7 linked regions of the Homo sapiens genome follow. The protein of the gene in region 7 purifies or fractionates together with the protein of the main gene of each other region. This does not show direct contact. Each region holds a gene or a part of one and is shown on either strand. Other genes may lie near its edges.

Region 1 (3,500 bases), on a different chromosome or scaffold from region 7:
TCTACTAAACAAAATACAAAAAATTAGCCAGGTGTGGTGGCGGGCGCCTGTAGTCCCAGCTACTTGGGAGGCTGAAGCAGGAGAATGGCGTGAACCCGGGAGGCGGAGCTTGCAGTGAGCCAAGATCATGCCACTGTACTCCAGCCTGGGCGACAGAGAGAGACTCCGTCTCCAAAAAAAAAAAAAAAAAAGATTTTAATGGAGCTGCCCTATACAGGCATGCCATTTTAATCTTTTCTACCTTATTTTTACTGTACCTTTTCTATGTTTAGACACACAAATACCACTCTGTTACAACTGCCTACAGTACTCAATACAGGTTTGTAGCCTAGGAGCAACAGGCCACACCATATAGCCTGGGAGTGTAGTAGGCTCTACCATCTAGGTTGTGTAGGCACACTCTATGAGGTTCACACAAGGACAAAATCGCCTAAGGATGCACTTCTCAGAATGTTTCCCCGTCGTTAAGTGCCACATGATGGTGGATTATTTGGGCAGTGGGCATGGTTGGGCTACAAGGAGACCCACATATGTGTGACACCAACTGCCACATAGTGGCAGACTAGCAACGGCTCAGCATGCTGGCTAAATGCATAATGTTTCAGGATCGGTGGCCCCCGCCTCAGCCATTTATGAGTGTGAACTTGGGCAAGTCATTTCACCTCTCCAAGCCTTAGTTTACCTGTCTGAAAACAGGGATGAGACTAGTACCTGCCTCATGGTGTTTTAAGTGCACATGGTGTGTGCTCAGTAAATGGCACTGCCATTATTATAATGGCACAGGACATCATCCACATCTCACAACAGCTGAGAAAGTGATGCCAGAAGGTTGTTTTGTTTTGTTTTGTTTTTTGAGATGGAGTCTTGCTCTGTTGCCCAGGCTGGAGTGCAGTGGCACGATCTCAGCTCACTGCAAGCTCCATCTCCTGGGTTCACACCATTCTCCTGCCTCAGCCTCCCGAGTAGCTGGGACTACAGGTGCCGGCCACCACGCCCGGCTAATTTTTTGTATTTTTAGTAGAGGTGGGGTTTCACTGTGTTAGCCAGGATGGTCTTGATCTCCTGACCTCGTGATCCGCCCACCTCGGCCTCCCAAAATGCTAGGATTACAGGCGTGAGCCACCGCGCCCAGCCAAGGGATACCAGAAGGTTGAACAGACACCTTGTGTCCAAGTCAGAGCTAGAGGCCTGTCTGCCAAACAGATGGAGGAGGGCGAGCCCTGTCCACTCCCATCTCAGAGAACCGGCTCAGTCCCTGCCCTTAGAGCAGTGGATCTCCAGCTATAGCCAGCATCAGAATCACCAGCAGCGCTTGTTAAATAATACTAGTCCCCATTCCCAGAGTTTCTGAATCAGCAGGTCTGAGTTGGGGCCCAGGAATCCACATTTCTAACAAATTCCTGGAGGACACTGAGGGTCAGGGACCACACTTTGAAAACCACTGCCCCACGCCATGCTGATGGGCATGGGCATATTTTGGAGACCAGCGCCAATAGCTGACTGGCTCACTGACCTAGGGTGGGCACCAGAGGCAAGGGCTACCCACCCGGAGGTGAGGGATTCATGGGGCCTGACACCAAAAGCCTGATGCTGTCCCAGGCATTTGAAACTGCAGTGGGAGTCTAAGCTGGAAGCCACGGAAAGTTGAGGCTGGGGCCAACTTTCCAAGTCGAGGAATGGTGCGGGAATTGGGCACCATTCCCGCCAAAATTAAGAGGGTAGGAGCAGAGGTCTGAAACTAGTAGCCCTCAGCTGTGTCCAGCTTGCAAACATGTTTTCAAAAATTTAAATTACTTGTCAACATTTGAACATTGGGAAAGTTGACACAAAAATACTGACTTTGGCCTGGCATGGCGGCTCACGCCTGTAATCCCAGCACTTTAGGAGGCTGAGGCGGGTGGATCACCTGAGGTCAAAAGTTCTAGATCAGCCTGGCCAATATGGTGAAACCCTGTCTCTATTAAAAATACAAAAATTAGCCGAGCGCGGTGGCAGACACCTGTAATCCTAGCTACTGGGAAGGCTGAGGCAGGTGAATCACTTGAACCCGGGAGGCAAAGGTTGCAGTGAGCTGAGATCGTGCCACTGCACTCCAGCCTGGGTAACAGTGCGAGTATCCATCTCAAAAAAAAAAAAAAAAAAAAATACTGATTTCCAGGCTGGGCGCAGCAGCTCACGCCTGCAATCCCAGCACTTTGGGAGGCCAAGGTCGCCAGATCACTTAAGGTCAGAAATTAGAGACCAGCCTGGCCAACAGGGGGAAACCCCATCTCTACTAAAAATACGAAAATTAGCCAGGTATGGTGGTGCACACCTGTAGTCCCAGCTACTTGGGAGGCTGAGGCAGGAGAATCACTTGAACCCAGGAGGCAGAGGTTGCAGTGAGCCAAGATCGTGCCACAGCACTCCAGCCTGGGTGACAGAGTGAGACTCAAAAAAAAACAAAAACAAAAACAAAAACAAAACACTGACTTCCAGATTATCTTGAAAACAGAATATTTGAGTACAACGGGGCCTACAATCCCTGGTGACAATACCTGATTAGAATCAGGTTGTGGCTGCCCTCTCCCCAGTTCACCTGGTCCCCACTAGGCCCACTTCACCCACTGACTGGCTCCTGCAGGCATGTGAGAGCGGAGTCTCAGGAGAAAACAGGACAGAGCAGCGAGGAGATACTGTAAGGCTGCCTCGGAGAAAGCCTCCAGCTTTTACTGACCCTGCTGGGCCACTCTACCACCCCACGCTGGCCCTGCTTTCCAGCATGGTTGAGCAAATCAACCAAGAGCCCTGACCCCCGCCTCCTGTGGCAAAATCTATCACAGTTGGGATTCTGGCTCTCATCTGTGCAGACTCAGACCTGCTCCTAGATGTCACTGCAGCCCACAGTGCCCTGTTACCAGGGGTGGACTGGTCGATGACCTATTTATTTTTAACAGGTAGATTAGCCACAAGTTGCTAGGAGAGAGAAGGAGGCTGGGCTGGCAGCATGGGCAGGATGGCAGGACTGACTGTGCCCACCTCTGGGCAAAGGTAAAGTGAAGGAGGAGGTTTGGATTTGAGCCAGGCCAAGGCCTGAGGTGAGCACATGCACCCCTACGTCTGCTCAGCTGAGGGGACATTCTGAGATGGCACCCAGGGTCTCCAAGTTGTGTTTCTGCTGCAGTCCATGGGGGCCCAGCTCAGCCTGGCAACCCAGGCGATGTGCCTCTTTGCCCAAGATAGGCCTTCTATCCCCGCTCTTCTTCTTCATCTGTTGAGCTCCTCCTATTCACCCATCAAGAGCCCAGCTCAAATGTCCCAGCTCAAGGATGACTGACCTCCCTGCCCTACCCCTGCATCCACAGCCCCTAAGCACAATGGTTCCCTGGACAAGATCCTTTCAGAGCACTCTGCACCCCTCCTTTATAGCACTTCTCACACTGCAATACAAGTCTGGCCACCAGAGCATCTTCTCCATTGGACTGTACACTCACTGAGGGCAGAGGCTCATCAGGTTTATC
Region 2 (3,500 bases), on a different chromosome or scaffold from region 7:
ATGTTGGCCAGGCTGCTCTCGAACTCCTGACCTTGTGACCCACCTGCCTCAGCCTCCCAAATTGCTGGGATTACAGGCATGAGCCACTGTGATGGGCTTTTTTTTTTTTTTCGGAGACCAAGTCTCACTCTGTTGCCCATGCTGGAGTGCAGTGGTGTGATCTAGACTCACTGCAACCTCCGCCTACCGGGTTCAAGCAATTCTTTCACCTCTGCCTCCAGAGTAGCTGGGACTGCAGGCACACACCACCACGCTCGGCTAATTTTTGTGTTTTAGTGGAGATGGGGTTTCACCATGTTGGCCAGGCTGGTCTTGCACTCCTGACCTCAAGTGATCCGCCCACCTCGGCCTCCCAAAGTGCTGGGATTAAAGGCATGAGCCACCACGCCTGGCCACTATCCCTGTTTGCATAGAGCAAGATACTGAGGCTTAGAGCAGTCATATAACCCACCCAAGTTCTCACTACAGCATGGTGAGCGCGATTCCCACTGACTTCAGACCTGCCCTGTGAATGATTCCCCCACTACACTCCCAGCCTACCTACACTCCCCACTACCTCTCATGTCACTGTGACATGAGACGGAGAGGAAGGTGTTATCAGTGGCATGGTCACTGCCATCTTACCTAATTACGGTACAGGTAATCCCCAAACTCATGCCTCCTGACCAGTACAGATTTCAAGAAGATCGTTATTTTGCTTTAGCTATGAAAAAGAAGAGAGTTGTTTGTATTTACTTTGTTGGTACAGTTTTTGCACATGGAACACCATAGAATGGAAGTATACAAGGATACGGAAGACCTAGTGGAGCTGTGTAAGCTGGCATGTACCTCTCTGCTCAGTGATGTGAAAAAGCCCTACTTGATTTGTCATTTACATCTTTGCTGTAGTTTTATTTTCTTCCTCTCTATTATGCCCTAACAGTTGACTGCCTTTGCATACAAAGATTATTTATCATTTGGATATGTATATGTGGGTTTGAGAGGGACGGAAGAGATGACAAGGCGGTACAACATCAATATCTACGCCCCTACCCTCTTGGTCTTTAAAGAACATATAAACAGGCCTGCCGATGTTATCCAGGTACGTGAGGGTCACCTTGGTTAAGATTTTCTTCACATTTTATCCCAAGATTTTATGTAAATAAACAGCAAAATTGAACAAAGTGGCTGAAGGAAAGGATCTTCCTTCAGATGCACAAAATTTTTTAATGAATTTTTTTATCTAACTTGGTACCGTTTGCTTTAAAATTTTTAATTTAAAACGTTTAAAAATTTTAGCACCTTTAAAGGGCTCCTGTTGGAAAACCAACAATCTTTTTCCAAAATGAATTTAAAAGTTAAATGTAAAACAGTAATAAAAAGGAATAAGAAGAAGCCACAAACTAACTGAGAGAATGTACAGATGAATATTTATCTGATCTTAAGGTAGGAAAGGGTTAAAAAGCATTGGGGAAAAATCTTGGAAAATCTTGATAACTTGACTCTAAATTTTATGTTTTTATGTAAATACTTTAAAATGTAAAGTTAAAAAACTGGGGGAATATTTATAACAAATATTAAAATGTTGATATTTTTAATTTCTAAAGAGCTTTTAATCAAGAAAATCATAAAATTCTGAGAAGACTAATAACCATTTTTAAAAATTAAATCTCACAAGTAATCAGAGAACATTAACCTTTTTTCACCCATCCAACTGTCAAAGATTTTCTAAGTTAAAATAGTACTGTTGAGGGTATAGAGAAACAAGTACTATCTTGCTAGAGGCAGTCCACTCTAATGGCAGCTCAGGTGTCCTGTGAACACAGAAGGGTACCTGAAACCATGGAAACCAGATGGGAAAGTGGACCGTAAAGAAAGAAGAGCAGGTTTAGAAAGATAAGAACTTTGGCTGTGGACATACTGAATTAGAGCTGCCTGTAGGAAATAGAAGGGGAGAAGTCCTTTCTACAGTTGGGTATAGGAATCGAGATCTTAAGAAAAGCATACAGGCTGGGGATAGAAACTGGTGTATCATCAGTAAATGGTTAGTGGTTGAAGTCCTGAGTAGGGTAAGATCTTCCCGGCATAATACCGTAGTCTCCCCTGATCCACCCCACTTACCCCTTTTTCAGTTTCTGAGGTTTCAGTTACCCACAGTCAACCAGGTCCAAAACATAGGTGACTACAGTGCAAGAAGATATTTTGAAGCCGGGCGTGGTGGCTCACGCCTGTAATCCCAGCACTTTGGGAGGCCGAGGCGGGCAGATCACGAGGTCAGGAGATTGAGACCATCCTGGCCAACGTGGTGAAACCCCGTCTCTACTAAAAATACAAAAAATTAGCCGGGCGTGGTGGTGGGCCCCTGTAGTCCCAGCTACTCGGGAGGCTGGGGCAGGAGAATGGCGTGAACCCAGGAGGCGGAGCTTGCAGTGAGCTGAGATCACGCCGCCCACTGCACTCCAGCCTGGGCGACAGAGCAAGACTCCGTCTCAAAAAAAAAAAAAAAAAAAAAGATGTTTTGAGCGAGGGGGACCATGTTCACATCACTTTATTACAGTATATTGTTAGAATTGTTCTATTTAAATATTGTTGTTGTTAATCTCTTGCTGTGCCTAATTGATAAACTTTATCATAGGTATGTGTATAGGAAAAAAACATAGTTTGTATAGAGTTCAGTACTATGTGGTTTCAGGCACCTACTGGGGGTCTTGGAACGTATCCTCTGCAGTTAGGGGATGACTGCTGTATGTAAAGTAAGGCCAAGGAGGCCAAGGACAAAACTCAGAACAGCCACCGGCACACAAGACAAGGGGGTGCCTGATGGAGACGAGAAGGTGCTGCAAGTCAGGAAGAAAACAAATACCAGTGTCCGAATAGAAAAGAGAAGATAATCTCAATCCAGGGTAAATGGATGAGGATTTCCTAAATTGGTCTTTCGGAACAGTTTATAGTTCTGAGAATTATATTTATTTATCCCACTGGGGAAAATTGTAAATCAAATACATTTACAAAATTATTGGTAGAATGGCTGCTTTACCAGCTTGCTCTTTGTGGATATCAAGTGTATGCTTAACAAACTCAGTTTTCACAACAGCAGGTGGCTTAATGATCACTAGTAGCACCAGTGGTTTCCTGTTGCTCTAGGTAATTTGTTGTCATTGCTATATGGTATTTATGGCCATTATAATTTATTGAATCATTCTTCCGTTGGTGGACATTGGGGGCTTTGAGGAATAGTGTTGCAATGAATATCATAACCTAAGTACAGAGTTCTCTAGGACAGCAGTTTTCAGAATGTGGTTGATAGACTCCTGGGGATTCTCAAAGATCCTTCAAGAGAAAGTCTGTGAGATCATATCAAGACACGATTTGCCTTTTTCACTGTGTTGACATTTACACTGATAGTACCAAAGCAGTAGTGGGTGAAGCTGCCAGTGCCAGTGCATGAATCCAGGCAGGGCACCAGGCCACCTACCATCATTGTGTGCTTCACCCCCAATCACTCGCAGCAAAAACAAACC
Region 3 (3,500 bases), on a different chromosome or scaffold from region 7:
TGTCTTGAGTTTACTAGCCCTGTTATGTCCACAGTTCTAACATGTGGTATGTATGACTCCAAGTAAATGTCGTTTGATTACTGTAGAACTAATTTATGTAAATAAGCAAATATTTCTCTTCAAGGCGAGATGATCCTTACTGGAGCGAGAATAAAAAGTTGTCTCTAGATACAGATGCACGATTTGGCCATGGATCCGACTACTCTCGCCAACAGAACAGATTTAATGACTTTGATCACCGAGAGAGGGGCAGGTTTCCTGAGAGTTCAGCAGTACAGTCTTCATCTTTTGAAAGGTAGATATGTTGAAAATTGTTATATTTATTTTATGAGCCTTGCTAGTGATAACTCTGTTTCTCCTAAAATCTTAACTGGAAGTACCAGGTCAGAACTGAATGCTCAGAACAATTTACGTGGTTTTTGTTTCTGTTAATGGGAATGTGATTCAGTATTCCAAATTAATTAACTAGAACACCATTAAGCAGGTTGGCTTTATCTTCTTATCTTTATTCTATTTTAATTTTTTTTGAGACAGGGTCTCATTCTGATTCCCAGGCTAGAACGCAGTGGTGCAATCTTGGCATACTGTACCTCTGCCTCGTGGGTTCAAACGATTCTTGTGCCTCAGCCACCCAAGTAGCTGAGATTATAGACATGCACCACCACCATGCCCGGCTAATTTTTGTATTTGTAGTAGAGACGGGGTTTTGCCATGTTGGCCAGGCTGGTCTAGCACTTCTGACCTGAAGTGATCCACCCACCTCAGCCTTCCAAAGTGCTGAGATTACAGGCCTGAGCCACCACTCCCCGCCTCTTCTTATCTTTAAAACTGTGGAAGCACTGATTGCTTTGGATATGCCTCAACTGTTAAGAACAGTAAAACATTCTTCAGCTTGGTAGTGACTTTTGAGTGTTCGGTATCATTTCTCCTGAATGCTAAAAAACCAACCTTTAGGCTAGACACTTAGTTCAGTTTAAAAGAAAATGAGTTGTAATAATCAATAACTAGCTTTTTTCCATGGCTTTGCCTTAAGTTCATTTTTTGGTTTCATTATTGTAGGTTATGCAGACAAAGTTAAGAAGAATTAAGCACTCAAGTAAGCACTTCTTGGACCTATATTCTTTGTTTCTAATCAATAGGCGGGATCGCTTTGTTGGTCAAAGTGAGGGGAAAAAAGCACGACCTACTGCACGAAGGGAAGATCCAAGCTTCGAAAGATATCCCAAAAATTTCAGTGACTCCAGAAGAAATGAGCCTCCACCACCAAGAAATGAACTTAGAGAATCAGACAGGCGAGAAGTACGAGGGGAGCGAGACGAAAGGAGAACGGTGATTATTCATGACAGGCCTGATATCACTCATCCTAGACATCCTCGAGAGGCAGGGCCCAATCCTTCCAGACCCACCAGCTGGAAAAGTGAAGGAAGCATGTCCACTGACAAACGGGAAACAAGGTAGCTGTGTACTATGTAATGCTTTCCTAGTGGTCTCATGCATTGGGGTTAAAAAAAGTTAAGATTACAGTTTTGATCATGTATGTTTTTATGTTTTGTTTAACAGAGTTGAAAGGCCAGAACGATCTGGGAGAGAAGTATCAGGGCACAGTGTGAGAGGCGCTCCCCCTGGGAATCGTAGCAGCGCTTCGGGGTACGGGAGCAGAGAGGGAGACAGAGGAGTCATCACAGACCGAGGAGGTGGATCACAGGTAAGTGCTGCGGGAGGCTTGCCGCGAGCCTGCACACATACATTTAGAGGATTCATGAGCTACTCTGGATATACAGTAGCATTTTGATGTGGCTTAGATTAGCTAGATTGGAATGATTCAGAGGCATTAATTTTTTATTTAAATTTTTAAAATCTGAATTTTTCTCATACTTTACTGTCAGTAGTTGACCATCAGTAGTCCAAAGAGTTAAGGTACTAGCCTTGAAATACTCCATTTCGATTAAACTTCCCAGTGAAATTTAAGAATTGTTAATTTGGTAAGTGAGCCTATCTAATGATAACTTTGGTTTTATTTCTTTTTAAGAAATTGAGGCTTTCAAACTGCATCTGAAATCTTTGGCCCCTACTTGTGTTTCCTTTTCAATAAAATATTCTTGGCCGGGCATGGTGGCTCATGCCAACACTTTGGGAGGTAATCCCAACACTGTGGGAGGCCGAGGTGGGCAGATCGCCTGAGCTCAGGAATTTCAGACTAGCCTGGGCAACATGGTGAAACCCCATCTCTACTAAAAATACAAAAATTAGCCGGGCGTGGTGGTGGGCGCCTGTAATCCCAGCTACTCTGGAGGCTGAAGCAGGAGAATCACTTGAGCCCAAGAGTTGGAGGTTGCAGTGAGCCAAGATGGTGCCACTGCACTCCAGCCTGGGCTACAGAGCCAGACCCTGTCTGGAAAAAAAAAAAAAAAATACACACACACACACACACACACACACACACACACACACACACACACACTCTTCTTTTTCTCCTGCTTCATTTAAGTAGCTTAAAGTGTAAAATTGAAATAGAACTTTTGTCTATTTTTTGTCTTCTTATCCTAAAGGTAGATGAGTGTAATGTTACATATTTTTAAATTTTTACTCTTGTGACACTTTATTGACTTGAATATTTTGTAAGTTAATGAGCTGGACAGAGGAAAGTGTCTTTATCTTTTAGAGACCGAAATGAACAAAAACCTTTTGCCTCATTTAAAAGTATTCTTCTACTGATGAAATACTGGCGTGTGGGTTGATAGTAGCACAGTTAGGACATACTTTCATAAATTATATACCAAAAAGAATTGTGCAGTGTGTGTGTCTCCATTATATGCTGGTGTTTGTTTTGTATTTTAATACAGTGTGTGTGTGTGTGTTGTTGTTTTTTTTGTTTTGTTTTGTTTGTTTGTTTTTTGAGATGGAGTCTTACTCTGTCAAACAGGCTGACATGCCGTGGTGCGATCTCGGCTCACGGCAACCTCCGCCTCCCAGGTTCAAGCGATTTTCCTTCCTCAGCCTCCCGATTAGCTGGGACTACAGATGTGCGCCACCACGCCTGGCTAATTTTTGTATTTTTAGTAGAGGCGGGGTTTCACCATGTTGGTCAGGCTGGTTTCAAACTTCCGACCATCCACCTCTGTCTCCCAAAGTGCTGGAATTACAAGCATGAACCATGACGCCCACCTCCTAAAAAGAATTTTTAAGACTGAGTCTATAATCCAAATAAGTCTGCCTTGTTTATAGTAAAATTTAAGTATCAAAGACTAGCCCTCCGCATTCAGAGGTCCTTTTAGAAAATGTGTCCTGAGGAGGAGATCTTGTATCCTCCCTTGAAAATTTTCTTTTTCATAATGTTAGTCTGTAAATTGTTCTGCCAGTATTATATCTAAGCCTCTCTGTGGGTACCTTCTGCTTTCTTTCCTGTAAGCTAAGTATCACAATGCTTGCTTTCTCTTTCCATAGATCTCTAGTTCTACAGTTTCTGTTTCTTTGTGTTTGCTACTCTGTTTTCCATAGTT
Region 4 (3,500 bases), on a different chromosome or scaffold from region 7:
AGCACTACCGTAAGTAACTCCCGCTATGAATAAACATACTAATGAGGCTGTCACGTTATGGTGAATTTAAAGGGCAGAACCACAGAAAGATAGAACGCTGGACCAACTGCCAAGGTTCTGACTAGTAGAAGTATTGTAGCTCAGGTAGTCAACATGCTGAACAAGATAACTTTTCTTTTTGTGTTTTTCCTTTTGTAAACCTAAGGATAAAGAAAAAAATAAATGTCCAAGATTCACTTACCCATTGATAGATGTTCTAGACATAAACAGGCTAAAAACAGATGACACAAAAGAATGATATAATTGGATAAATAGCCAGCCCGATTTCTCAATGCTGTTGTTTAAGAAGATCTGTGTTCCTTGATCAAGGTAACTCTGAACAAAGACAGCCTGGAGTGATTCGCATAATTTCTCTCTGTTGCACACATACCACTAAAAAAAAAAAAAAAAAAAGAACAAAAATTAAAACACACAACCGAAGTGTCACCTAAGAAATCCAAAAACAAAAAACCAGAAGACTAAATCACATCTAAGATTTCCAAATATTACCATCTCATGATACTCTGAGAATAATCATTTCGTATACTCATATAACCTATAAAATATAAAGTACTTCTTCAGACATGACTTCTCATTTAATTCTCTTACAGCCCTCAAGGTAGGTAGAGTGGGTGAGGGAAGGGTGGAGAGGCTTTTGGGTCATTCAGCTTAGTAGGCAGCAGAACCAGACCACAGCTCAGGCACTCGGACTCCCAGCCCAGTGCTTCAGTCACTGTACCCGAGATTTAGAAAGCTCTGCTGGCCTCTCTTTCACTGAGATTCAACATCAGAAGGCAAACAGCTAGCAGCATCCTTGTTTTTAGACAAGAAAACAGTCACATAATCCAATGCCTTAACTCAAAATCACCAAACAAACCCAAATAGCAAAGTAAGCAACAGAATTTAACACTCCAGTGACCAGATTAAGTTGCCTTTCCTCTTGTGGACTATGTAAAAGAGATCTTTAGAAATCTTGAGGTATGCTTTACAAATAGGTCATATGACATTCTTACAGAGGCAACATGTGCTCAAGAAAGATTAAGAAGTTACTTAAGGTCATACTGCAATCAACGAGAAGACCAAATAGTAACATGCTAAGAACCAGATTTCCAGGAATTGGCTCTACCCAGAATCCACATTCTAGAACAAAATTCAAAAAGCTTCACCTGTAGATGAAATTTAATCTTTCATAATAAATGAGTCAGCATACCAGAGAGGTGGGGAAGCAGACTGTACATCAGCTTTAGCGTCAGCCCCACAATCAAGTCCCGGCTCTGCCCTTCCTATGTGAGCTCAGACAAATCACTTAAATCTCTCAGCCTCCATTCATTTGTAGACTAGAGATGTCACTGGGGTCTATATATCCTGGCAGGGTACGATGAGGATTAAACAAGATAATGCAGGCAAGTCCTCAACATAATACAAAGCACGTAGTGAGAATCCTACAATAATAATAGCAGTGAGATTCCTCTAACATAGCCTGAGAAATAAGAATAAGCCCCTTAAGTACAGTGATGAAACTACAAAGTATATCAATTATTATTAACCCATTATCTGCCATGAAACACAAATTTTTCCCAGTCAATTGGCCAAGAGTAATTTGCTTCCCCTTGACAAATACGACCTTTTATCAGCAGTAGACGTCCCATAAGTGCTTGCACAATTGGTAGACCAGCTTTACAGTCATCCTAAGCTTACTAATGTTCAGTGAAATCTTAAGTAACATTCCTGATGCTAACGTTAAAAGGAACTAGTTACAAATCAACACAAACAAACAGGCACGTTAAATTTCAGAGATTAATCATTTTACAAACTCTGTTCCCTAAACTGGGTAAACCAAACCTTTCCAGTTGTGGACTAATTTGTGCTAATTTGCCATTTCATCACAGTTATCAAAACTGCTTGGACTTTATATATAAAACTGTTTTTATTTTTCCTACTCTATATGACAAGCTATGAAGCTTTTTACATTCACTGCCTACATTTTTTCCCTTGGTCTGAAAATGTTCTTGCTTAATGATTTTCTAATTCTTAATACTTATTGTGCCTGAAGTTATGCTCCAGTGCAGGTCATAAACCGTTTTTTATTATACTCATGACCTCCTGGTGCACGTTCTGAACTCTGTAATATGGAGGCCACTCTGACTTTTATTTATTTTTTATTCTCTGAAATGGCTAATCAAGATGAAAGCCATCACCTTGATAATAGGCAATCAGGTACATTTTATTAATGTGGATGAGAAGTCATTCAAGTGAAACAGAGGAGCTAAGAATTCCTTGGCATCCACTTGTAAATGGACTAGAACAACAATAGATTCTGACTTCTAGAACCAAGCAGGAACTGGCACCATTAGCTGCAAATAGTGCTTTCAAGCACCAAGAGGAAAACTCAAGTTTTTAATAGCATTTTTCTCAATTCATCAACATTAACACGTGTGGTTGAACCCTTACTGTCACACAGGTCTTTCTGGAAAGAAACTGCTTATTGAACAGAATGTGCTACAGAACAAAAATAGAGCAAAGCTCTTCTCTTTAAAAAGAAAGGTGAAACGTATGTCCTTTCTGACCATTTGCATGACACAAATGTCGATTTCACAGCAGCAATGTCAGAAACTGCAAACAAGTCAAATGTCCATCAAATGGTGGATAAGCAAGATGTGATAATAGATTCATATAAAATAATAGCATGTTCTGCCATACAAAGGAATGAAGCACTGCTTCATGCTCCAGCATGGATGAACCTTGACAACATTATGCTAAGTGAAATAAGTCAGTCACAAAAGACCACATACTGTGTAATTCCACTTACGTGAAATGTCTTGAATATGCAAATCCAGAGATAGAAAGTAGATAGTAGATTGTGGCTGCCAGGGGCTGGGGAGCTGGGACAATGTGGAGTGGCTGCTAATGGACATGAGGTTTCTTTTTGGGGTGATGAAATGTTCCAAAATTAATACTGGTGATGGCTGCATAATTCTGTGATTATACTAAAAATCAATGAATTGTACTCTTTAAAAGGATAAATTTCATGGTATGTGAATTATATCCCAATAAAGCTGTTTTTTAAACACACACACACACCCCTCCCTAAATATGCAGGTGGCAGTTAGATCTTCCAGAAATTAAAAGTGGCCTGAAAACATAAGTAACCTAGAAAACCTCTTAAAATGCAAATTTTAAATGCAAATCTGATCACATCACTACCCTGCTTAACAGGAATCTTAGGATAACATCCAAAATGCTTAATATGGCTTATAAGGCCCTGCACGATTTTTGTTCATTCTGTGTCTCCAGCCTCACCTCATGACATTCCCTACCAACCCATGACCCCTGGACCCTCACTCCATCACACAGCTCCACCCCTTCCTTCTTTTTTCTGGAAGGCCCCTTTCCCGTGGCTGTCTCACATGGTATTTGCTCTGCCCCCCAACATTTCCCACCACCTAACCCACTCTCTCTTC
Region 5 (3,500 bases), on a different chromosome or scaffold from region 7:
AACTCTAGCTTAAAAAAATCTTTTCTTTTTGATGTAGAGAAATAAATACTATTAAGTAGCAAGGTAGGTAGCAATGGCTATTGCTCTCTTTTAGAATCTGGCTGATTACTAGCTCTCTGCCAATGTCAACCTGCTGTTACCCTTTGATAGATCGATTTTCTGAATAGATTAAGTCTGATAGACTATTTATTGTGAAAATTATGTCAATTCTTGTGCTGTTTTAAACGAGGCGTTATCTAATTTTTGAACGTTCTTTGCTGCTTTTGATGACCCACCATCAGGCTAATGGTCTGATTATTACATTTTACTTTAGGGAAGGAACAGATTCTCCTAAAAATCAGTGTCTTAGGTTAGTGGTCCTGTGAGATTTTCTAATGGCAAAAGTGGGCCAGGCACAGTCACTCATGCCTGTAATCCCAGCACTTTGAGAGGCCAAGGTGGGTGGATTGCTTGAGCCCAGGAGTTAGAGACTACTAGCCTGGGCAACATAGTATAGTACTTTGCTGGGAAAAAAAAAAAAAAAAAAAGCCAGGTATGGTGGTGAACTCCAAAACCTTGGATTTGGCAATAAAATGATGTCAAACCTTTCCCAGAACTTCACATGAAATTATTCTTTTTGTGTCTATTTTTAGAAATAAAGTGTTCACCTGACCAAGACCTCATATTCTTCAAGTTGCACTTTCCAAATACAAGATGGTAACTGTCTCTCAAATATTATTTACCTGCTCCTCAGTGATTTGCATGTACAGGATAATATAATAAATCAATTCAGGCAAGGCTTTCTTAACAGTGCTTTTGAATTTGCTATTTTCTAGTAGAGCATGGACAAATTCAAAAATGCTAAAGACGAGATTTTCAAAGCCCAGGACTTCACCTGCAGGAAATACAGAAGAGAAGAAATTAATGACAAGAAAGCAAAAGGAAAGCATATATGCAGAAAATGAACTACATAACCTTTGTAAATTACTGAATATTTAAAGTACTTGCTAATGATCATTCCTGAGGAATTGGGAGAGAGGGCTCAGAGGTCACAAAACGTAATTTTGAGGATATTAAATATTCTTTGGTTTTTCAAGTAAAAGAATCAGAAACACTGGATATATTTTCCAGTATGTCTATTGTTCTAATCTGAAATAATGAGAAATGTTAAAACAGAAACGAAAGATTCATGATCTGGGACCCCCAAATGAAACACAACAAAATGCCAGAAGTAGGCTAGATTAAATGGCCTTAAAAGTATCTCTTCCAATGCAGAAATTCTATGATTTTATGAGATTTATGCAACTACCTATGTGGAACAGATTAAAGATTGTCAATTCTCATTTCCCCACATCGAATACATCGAAAATAAACTGAATTAGAAAACACTTAATAGAGTGAAGCCTCTCAAGTTACTGTTTCCCGCCCCCATCTCTGGCTTCTTTTTCTTTTCCCACTAACTGGTATTTCTATAAAGATCAAATAAACTACATACCATCAGAATCCACAGGATCTTCTACTTCTTCTGTGTAATTTACTTCTGTCCTCACATAAGTATGATGAAGAGTAAAGAAATAGAATTTGGAGTCTGCTTTACATATAATCTACATGGAAATGTTACATATTCCAACACTAAAAGTAGACACCTTAAAAAAGCCTGTGTAAGAAGAGTGGAACCATATGAATGTGAAACCCAGTGCGAGATTCCTAACTATAGGTGGTAGTAGCTCCCTTAAACTTTCAAGAAAGGATATAAAGCTGCACTCTCGGTTAGGGTGTTCCAAACAATAGGCAGAATCTGCTGCATGGAGGACACCATGTGCTTTGGGAAGTTTTTCACTAGGGCTGTCACTGCCTAAGAAGTTAAGAGAAAAGGACCCAAGTTATGAGTGATATATAAGAAATAAATGATTTCAGACCAGCCCCTCAAACTCCAAATATTTCATTGGTAGTAAGTGTTTACCTTTAGGACCTCCATCTTAAACCCACTGTCAGATGTGGGGCCATCTGGTATCTGGAGGGCCTGAACAAAGGCCTCTGTGAACTGCTGTACCACGGGAAAGATCAGGACTTTGGCTGCACCCTGATAACAGAAACCAAAGTCAATACTGGACAAACCCCTAATCCATGGCTTCAACACATATATATCAAACACTGATATTTGAAAGGCACCTAAAGCTCTCTTCAGGCTCCAAGCCTGATCAGAAGAGAATAGCTATAAAGTCAATGAAGGTGTTACCTAAGATTTCATTTTTCCTTAACCAGCACTTGCAGTTCTTCATCAAAGCCCTCTTAAAAACTATTATGTAAGACCAACTTTCCTCCTAACTGCTTCTGAATCACAGGGATTGGTATTTTTCAGCTAGCTTTGCTTCACACAAGAGGGCCATAAAAGAGTAGGAAAGTTCTAAGGGATGACTACTATGAAAAGGATATAGGATAAGGTGTTTGAAGAAGTAAGACTCAAAAGAAGACTAAGCTTTTTACAAGTTGAAAATTCAATCAGGCCAGGTGTGGTGGCTCACACCTATAATCCTAGCACTTTGGGAGGCCAAGGTGGGAGGATCACTTGAGCCAAGGAGTTCAAGATGAGCCTGGGCAACATAGGGAGAGACCCCGTCTCTACAAATATAAATTCATTAGGCTGGGCATGGTGGCTCATGCCTGTAATCCCAGCACTTTGGGAGGCCGAGGTGGGTGGATCACGAGGTCAAGATATTGAGACCATCCTGGCCAACATGGTGAAACCCTGTCTCTACTGCAAAACAAAAATTAGCTGGGCATGATGGCGCGTGCCTGTAGTCCCAGCTACTCGGGAGGCTGAGGCAGAAGAATCACTTGAACCTGGGAGGCGGACGTTGCAGTGAGCTGAGATTGCACCACTGCACTCTAGCCTGGTGACAGAGCGAGACTCCATCTCTAAATAAATAAATAAATTCATTCGTTCACTCATTCATTCATTAGCCAGGAGTGGTAGCACATGCTGGTGATCTCACCTACTCGGGAGGCTGAGGTGAGAGGATTGCTTGAACCTGGGAGGTTGAGGCTGCAGTGAGCTATGATCATGCCACTGCATTCCAGCCTGGGTGACAGAGCAAGATCTTGTCTCAAAAAAAACCCAAATAAATAAAAAAAATACAAATATAGCTGAGTGTTGTGGTTCATGCTTATAACCCCAGCACTTTGGGAGGCTGAGGGGGGAAGACTGCTTGAGCCCAGAAGTTCAAGACCAGCCTGGGCAATACAGTGAGACCCTATCTCTACAAACATTTAAAAAAGAAAATCAGCCAAGTGTGGTGGTGCACACCACACCTGTAGTTCCTACTGGGGGTCAGGGGATCACTTAAGCCCAGGAGTTCAAGGCTGTAGTGAGCCATGATTGCACCACTGTAGTCCAGCCTGGGTGACAGAGCAAGACCCTGTCTGGAAAAATAACAACAATAATTTAATAAAAATGTTAAATCTATCTCTAATACTGGTTAGTGTGCTTTTTCGTGCTGCTATCATGAAATGACTCACTG
Region 6 (3,500 bases), on a different chromosome or scaffold from region 7:
TGGTAGGTTTCAACTTAATTTACCCAGCTCCTATTCAAGATGGAGTTGTTCTGGTTCCCATGCCTCTGACAATATCACGTTAAATAAAGTAAAAATATGCACATTTTGTAGGACATAATACAAAACAAAGTGCTGGGTTTGCAGGTATTGAGTGGGCTATGCTCTTGGGCCCTGTGAGGATAAACATTCACTCCATTCTTGCTGCTAGCACTTCATGGGAAGGTTTGCAACTTACCAAGCAGAACTATGTTTTTGGTACTACTGGCATCACAAACATGAAGGCCAGCATTAACAAAACTAACACACGCAAGACACAATTCTAATTAAAAGCTCTAACTTCAGACATCAGTATATATTTAAAAAATATAGAAGGCTAATGATCAAAATAGTAAATTAAACATATCCATCTCTTGAAACTCAAACTCAATGTATAAAGCACAAGCTCTGAAAATCATGCTAAATGATAAACAATAACTGTGAAAGATGATGGGGTGGTTTGGGAATAGTTAAATTAATTAGATTCTACATAATTCTCACAAATATTCTCTCCTAGAAAAAAATAAAGTATATAACATTCAAAATACCAAAATTCTGCAGTATCTCTCACACACCAACTTAGTTAACTTCCTCAAAATCCTTGATTAAGTCTATACTATAACATACAGTTATATGGTAGTCAGAGAACATAATGGTCAATCCCAAAAGAAGATCAAGACCAGCAAAAAATCTAGCTATATTCAGAAACAACTTAGAAGGTCTTATGTTCCTTTCCTACTTAGTGACTGAGAAAGAGACAGAAAATGTATTTTGCCTGTGAAAGTTTAGGGGGAAGAGGAAGCAGTACCTGTTTTTCCAGTACCACTAATCAAATGTGGAGTCAAAGGGACTTTTATTATTGAAATAAATTTTGGTGAAATGACAAATGCTCAATCTCTAAAAATATTAGGATGGTTCAGTTTGCTTCCTGTGCCTCAGCTCCCTTTTCCAAGGTAGCTTAATGAAAGGTAGCTTCAATAAAATTTGGCTGCCTAGGCCAGGCCCAGTGGCTCACACCTGTAATCCCAGCACTTTGGGAGGCCGAGGTGGGCAGATCACATGAGGTCAGGAGTTCAAGACCAGCCTGACCAACATGGTGAAACCCCTGTCTCTACTAAAAATACAAAAGTAACCGGGCATGGTGGCACATGCCTCTAATCCCAGATACTTGGGAGGCTGAGGTAGGAGAATCACCTGAACCCAGGAGGCGGAGGTTGCAGTGAGCCGAGATCGTTCCATTGCACTCCAACCAGGGCAACAAAAGTGAAACTGTCTCAAAAAAAAAAAAATTGGCTGCCTATCTTTTTTAGAGCAGAATCTCAAAAGTTCAACAGGAATTACTTCAGAGTAGAAAGCACAGAATCCAAGAAAGGAATGGCTGATCTACAGTGAAACTGGAGAGTTGTTTCCCCTGAGAAGACAAGGTAAACATTTTTATCCAAGGGAAATACTCGTGGGGCAGCCCCTAAACACCTGGGGCTCTCACAGTTACAAAGCGGGAAAGGGGAAAAGACACACACACACACACACACACACACACACACACACATCTATACCTACCTTGGGCTTTAGAAGAAAAAAATATATATATATAAACATATATACACATATATATATGTATATATACACACACACATATTCATTGTCATTTTATTCACCCTTTATAGGAAACTATTCTTAATAAATTATAACTTGGTACAGTATCTGAAATTTAACATTTTTTTAACAGCATCAAAGAGAATTTCAGTACCTATCCCCTTCCCCCTATCCCCCAAAGTTAATGAGGTAGTAATTCATACTAACTCAAAACTGGACAAAACAATAAGTGACCTTCCATGAAATGGTCTTCTGGGACAGAAGGGAAAATAAAAGATGACAGCAAATAAAACTGCTAAAATTGATATGCTTGCTTTATTCAAGAATAATAAAGTTATCCACATTTTAACTATGAAATGTAGAATAATACCTGAGATACTGTGATGGTTAATATCGAGTGTCAACTTGATCGGATTGAAAGATGCAAAGTACTGTTCCTGGATGTGTCTGTGAGGGTGTTGCCAAAGGAGATCAACGTTTGAGTCAGTGGACTGGGAGAGGCATACCCACCCTCAATCTGGGTGGGCACCATCTAATCAGCTGCCAGGACAAATAGAATAAAGCAGGCAGAAGAACATGGAAGGAACAGACTTGCTGAGTCTCCTGGCCTTCATCTTTCTCCCATGCTGGATGCTTCTTGCCCTCAAACACTGGACTCCAGATTCTTCTGTTTTTGGACCCTTGGACTTACACCAGTGGTTTGCCAGGGACTCTTGGGCCTTCAGACACAGACTGAAGGCTGCACTGTCAGCCCTACTTTTGAGGTTTTGGGACTCAAACTGGCTTCCTTGCTCCTCAGCTTGCACAGGGCCTATTGTGGCACTTCACGTTGTGATCATGTGAGTCACTACTCCTTAATAAACTCCCCTTCATATATACATCTATGCTATTTGTCCTGTCCCTCCAGAGAACCCTAATACAATAACTTTCAAAGAAAAGTAGAACATATGATTTCCCTTCCCTGCAACCAGCCAACTATGTCATCTGTTGGAAAGAAACTTTAGAACACTTACGAAACAAACTTAATTGTGATATTTTTAATTCAGTATGCTCTCAAGGATGAAACTTGAATTTAAATACACTCAACCATATTTGTCCAGTATCAGTAGAGGAAAACAAAAATGTTTCCACATAAACAGAAAACAAAAGATTGCTGATATCTTGCTCAAGCACAAACTAGAGTCTGCTCATCTATCTGCCTATTTGGGGACAGGGCATATGTAAACTGCAGCAAATTCCATTTAGTCTACAAACTTCTGACCAAAGAAAATGAAGAGCTCTTGCCTGCTAAATGTTCTGCATGCCTTGCACACAGCATTGCTATGAGGCAGTAGTTTCCTGCCCTGTGATGTTTGCCACCTTTCAGTTTTCTCAAAACCTGCAGAACTTAGTGAGATTCGGACCTTACAGAAATGAAAGGCGATAGACTCCTTGGACATGAACCTGCCAAATGGCTATCAAGGTGGCCAGTCACAGAAAAGCTGTTAAAATGTTAGAAGATGGTAAAATCGTATTTTCAAAGTGTGAGTCAAGAAGAATGTCCTTTTCTAATTTGGAAATACACTGAGGATAAGAATGAAGAAAAAGATTGCAGTAAAACAGAAATTCATATTCTATTTCTCCAAAACCGTTTCCTGATCTTGAAAGAGGCCATAAGGAGCCTAAAGAAGGATGAAATGACTGTCCTAAGTTGCTCAACAGTATGTGTAGAAAATTGCTCTACCATCAGGTAATGGGGTCTCAGAGGGAGAAGAGATAAATACACATGGTCACTCTGCTACTTGAGTTGAAAGTATTGTAAACTATTGTTTTCTTGTACCATGTCATTTCATTTGCTCAAAATGTAACATAATACCTTAATACATTTA
Region 7 (3,500 bases):
AAAAAAAAATAGAAGAAAGTGTAAGAGAATCTTTGTGACCTAAGTGTGAGGAAGGTCTTCAACAAAACTTCAAAAACACAAACCATAAAGAAAAAGTTGATGGATTATGTTTTATCAAAATTAATAATTCCTTTTCAATAAGGGGAACTATGGACAAAGCTAATGGCAGATGGCACAACAGAAGAAGGAATTCACGATGTTTACCCATGAGGGATTAATCTCACACACACACACACACACACACACACACACACACAGATATATAATATTCCTGTTAATAATAAAAGACAGCCATCCCATAAGAAAAATGGGTCAGTGATGTGAGCTGGCAATTTTCAGTAGAGGAAGTCCCCAGAGCCAACTAGCATATACAGAGATGCTCAATCTTCTCAGCATTCAGAGGTTGCAAACCTAAAGAACAATGAGCCATCACTTATCCCCACTGATTGGCAAACTTGGAATGCTGGTTCACATGAGATGTGGGCACATGGAATCTCACTGCATGGCTGGTGGCAGGATAACGACACTGCCTTCCTGGGATCCCACTATCCCCTTAGTGGACATACCCACCATGGGCCAGCAGTCCCCCTCCTAGTTATATACCCCAGAGAAATCTCCACACAGCGCCGTAAGGCAACACGTTTGAGACTATGCATTCAGTGTTGTTGTGGAGTTAGAGGCAGCCTGGATACCTTCTCCAGGAGGGTGGCTGGCTAAAACGAAGCACTCTGCAGTAAGGAGGAAAAACAGACTGAATGCACACGAGTGGCAGCGATGGATATTAAAGCATGATGATGCATACGGGAAAAGCAAGGAACATCACAGAACCATAAATGTCACTTACATGAACTAAGATGCATATGCATACATCGATATTCACATTTTGCAAGAATATATACAAAATATATACATTAGACTGTCTGCATTATGGGTGAATAGAGGGAGGTATGCAGAGAAGTATTTACATGTACAGCAACACACTCATGCCAGAACCATGAGTCTGAGTCTTGGAGGATGGGCACCAGGAGTCGAGGTAACTCTGATATGTAACCAGGATTGGAACTAGTGGTTTGCAGTACACTTAGTCCTCAGGACAGAGTATGACCTCTACCCAGTGACATAGATTAACACATGCTGTGTGAGGCCACGGAATGCAACCAGAATGAAGCCTGATTGGTTAATCAGGTGAGTTGGACTGGGGTGCTCAGATATAAATGAGGAGGAGTCAGAGAGAGATGGGTTCCACTCACCAGCCTGGCCTTCAGCCCGTCTCCAGTCTGAAGCAACCAAGGGAAAACAGGAAATTAGCACATCAGGACCCCAAGCTTCCCTGCTCACACATCACATCTTGCACCCACCCTGTCCCGCACCCCCCACCACCCACATAGCCAGCAGGGGTCCTGCCTGGGCATCATACCTGGTTGGGAGATGAGAAGAAGATATATGGGGAATCAGATGCAAAATGATGAATGAGGAGAAATAGTTCTTTTTTTTTTTGAGACAGAGTCTCGCTCTGTCGCCCAGGCTGGAGTGCAGTGGCGCCATCTCGGCTCACTGCAAGCTCCGCTTCCCGGGTTCACGCCCTTCTCCTGCCTCAGCCTCCCATGTAGCTGGGACTACAGGCACATGCCGCCACGCCGGGCTAATTTTTTGTATTTTTAGAAGAGACGGGGTTTCACTGTGTTAGCCAGGCTGGTCTCGATCTCCTGACCTCGTGATCCACCCGCCTCGGCCTCCCAAAGTACTGGGATTACAGGTGTGAGCCACTGGACCCGGCCCTGAGGAGAAATAGTTCTAAGAGGGGTCACTTACCAAGCTCTGTCTGAAGCTTTTCTGCAAGCAGAACACACAAAGAAAACTTCAGCCTGCAGGTGGGTGGAACCATCTTCCCAAGACAGGCCACTGGGAAGAGCTTCCTTAGTCTTAAGCCACTGCTAATCACAGCTTCATTTTTTTTTTTTTACAGCTTCCTCTTTGCCCCTTCATTGCCCTCAAAAAGAGGCCCATCTGCAGGACTCTTATGCCTCATCCTATCTTAGCTCAAAGGTGGAAATCTGCACACAGCCTAGAAGGGATACCAGATCTTAGTACTGACAGGCCTCTTCCCAGGGTTGGGGTTGTTCCTTCTGCCTGAAATCACAAGCTTCCTGGGGCGGAGCTCCCGCCTAAGTGCAGGCACTGAGGGCCGCCTACGTGAGCCTCACGGTCACTCACCGGGTGCGTTATCTGAAGGACTGGAAGGACATCACACCCAATTATTTCCCCAAATAATTACCAAGGACTCCAACATTTTGCTACTAAAAATGCATTCCTTTGATCTGTCCACCCAATGTCAAGCTCTTTCAAAAGTAAATGCTCCTGGGAGAGGCATTCATGCTATAGTGTTATGACTTACAATTCAGACTATAGCCTTAATGACTTATTAGGGCTATGTTTTTCTCATTCCCCTTGAAGGGCGAGGTAGACTGCCAGACAAGCTTTCCCAACCTTACAGTTTCATCTGAATTGCCCCCCCAACCCCAACACCATGATGGCCTTTTCCTCCATTCCCCCTCCCTTGGGTTCACTCTCTCTTCCTCTCTACAGAGACACATCCCATGGTTTCACGTCTCTGAGTCCCTCTGGGGAGAAAAGTGGATCTGAGAAATTATTTCCATTTTGGTGCAAATTAAAGGTGCCACCCTTCCTAGTGCCATTTGCATTAAAAAGAAAAGGATATTTTAAGAAGATGAACCGGAGACAGTAAACGTTTTATGATGAATTTTAACTGAATTGTCTAATTTGCAGGGGAGGAGCTGGCAGGGTCTGTGCAGAGGGTCTCGGGCAGCTGCACGGTGGCAGGCAGCCATCCTTTCAGCCCCTTAGCAAGGGAAGAGGTGGAGGCTCACAGGGATGGTTTAGAATTAGATAGTTGCCAGCCGCTGTCCAAAGGGAGCCCCTCCTCCCACTGCACAGGCACAGGGTCCGGCTGACAGGCAGCACTGTGGCCCCGCACCCAGAACTTACCCAGCTCTGCAGTGAGTTTCTCTAGAGAAAAAAAAAAAAAAAAGATGAAGAAAAGGGGAAAGACTCTCAGGTTGGGGAATGAGGCAGACAGAACAGATGGGTGAACACTGAGGCCTCACCTCCGATGCGGCACTCCCACCCGCGGTGGTCTGCGGGCCCAGGCTGGGCTGGAAGTGAGGCTCCAGGCAGGGGATGGGGAAGTGCGCACCCTTGGCTGCCCTTCTGCATAGGAGGGTGACCCAGCGCCCTCCCTCCTGCTAGTGTGAAAATCAGGGTCGGAGCCTCCCAAATCTATTAGCTCGGCGGAAACGTTAAGCCCCGGACACTGCCTCACGTAACTGGGCTGTTTTCTCGGTGCCTGACCGCCGCTTCCTGACCCTGTGCGGAGATGTTGCGCATCCGCCCGACTCCCTGTGCGCTATGAAAACCTGGACGAGGTGGCGCTGGCAGCAGAGACCCTGGTCACCGCTCCCTCTGTACAGTGTGATGTGAAG

The links.
Region 1: the proteins of BTNL9 (region 7) and CAND2 purify together in Homo sapiens (affinity purification with mass spectrometry; one large-scale study listed by BioGRID and IntAct). This does not show direct contact.
Region 2: the proteins of BTNL9 (region 7) and DNAJC16 purify together in Homo sapiens (affinity purification with mass spectrometry; one large-scale study listed by BioGRID and IntAct). This does not show direct contact.
Region 3: the proteins of BTNL9 (region 7) and SLTM purify together in Homo sapiens (affinity purification with mass spectrometry; one large-scale study listed by BioGRID and IntAct). This does not show direct contact.
Region 4: the proteins of BTNL9 (region 7) and METTL9 purify together in Homo sapiens (affinity purification with mass spectrometry; one large-scale study listed by BioGRID and IntAct). This does not show direct contact.
Region 5: the proteins of BTNL9 (region 7) and IPO9 purify together in Homo sapiens (affinity purification with mass spectrometry; one large-scale study listed by BioGRID and IntAct). This does not show direct contact.
Region 6: the proteins of BTNL9 (region 7) and DYM purify together in Homo sapiens (affinity purification with mass spectrometry; one large-scale study listed by BioGRID and IntAct). This does not show direct contact.

What each region holds. Positions count from the first base shown.
Region 1 is NC_000003.12:12,799,680-12,803,179, reverse strand, and holds part of CAND2 (cullin-associated NEDD8-dissociated protein 2), read right to left. Parts: intron 1-3,500.
Region 2 is NC_000001.11:15,547,348-15,550,847, forward strand, and holds part of DNAJC16 (dnaJ homolog subfamily C member 16 isoform 1 precursor), read left to right. Parts: intron 1-922; coding exon 923-1,081; intron 1,082-3,500. UniProt on the Homo sapiens protein: Plays an important role in regulating the size of autophagosomes during the formation process.
Region 3 is NC_000015.10:58,885,180-58,888,679, reverse strand, and holds part of SLTM (SAFB-like transcription modulator), read left to right. Parts: intron 1-124; coding exon 125-295; intron 296-1,059; coding exon of another isoform or gene 1,060-1,078; exon of another isoform or gene 1,079-1,139; coding exon 1,140-1,454; intron 1,455-1,560; coding exon 1,561-1,705; intron 1,706-3,500. UniProt on the Homo sapiens protein: When overexpressed, acts as a general inhibitor of transcription that eventually leads to apoptosis.
Region 4 is NC_000016.10:21,609,577-21,613,076, reverse strand, and holds part of METTL9 (protein-L-histidine N-pros-methyltransferase isoform 1 precursor), read right to left. Parts: intron 433-3,500; coding exon 242-432; intron 1-241. UniProt on the Homo sapiens protein: Protein-histidine N-methyltransferase that specifically catalyzes 1-methylhistidine (pros-methylhistidine) methylation of target proteins.
Region 5 is NC_000001.11:201,853,157-201,856,656, reverse strand, and holds part of IPO9 (importin-9), read right to left. Parts: intron 2,063-3,500; coding exon 1,943-2,062; intron 1,835-1,942; coding exon 1,734-1,834; intron 1,534-1,733; coding exon 1,475-1,533; intron 875-1,474; coding exon 723-874; intron 1-722. UniProt on the Homo sapiens protein: Nuclear transport receptor that mediates nuclear import of proteins, such as histones, proteasome and actin. Serves as receptor for nuclear localization signals (NLS) in cargo substrates.
Region 6 is NC_000018.10:49,373,646-49,377,145, forward strand, and holds part of DYM (dymeclin), read right to left. Parts: intron 1-3,500. UniProt on the Homo sapiens protein: Necessary for correct organization of Golgi apparatus. Involved in bone development.
Region 7 is NC_000005.10:181,053,766-181,057,265, reverse strand, and holds part of BTNL9 (butyrophilin-like protein 9 isoform a precursor), read right to left. Parts: exon of another isoform or gene 3,235-3,500; coding exon of another isoform or gene 3,126-3,234; intron 3,028-3,125; coding exon 3,007-3,027; intron 1,834-3,006; coding exon 1,813-1,833; intron 1,278-1,812; coding exon 1,251-1,277; intron 729-1,250; coding exon of another isoform or gene 649-728; exon of another isoform or gene 97-648; intron 1-96.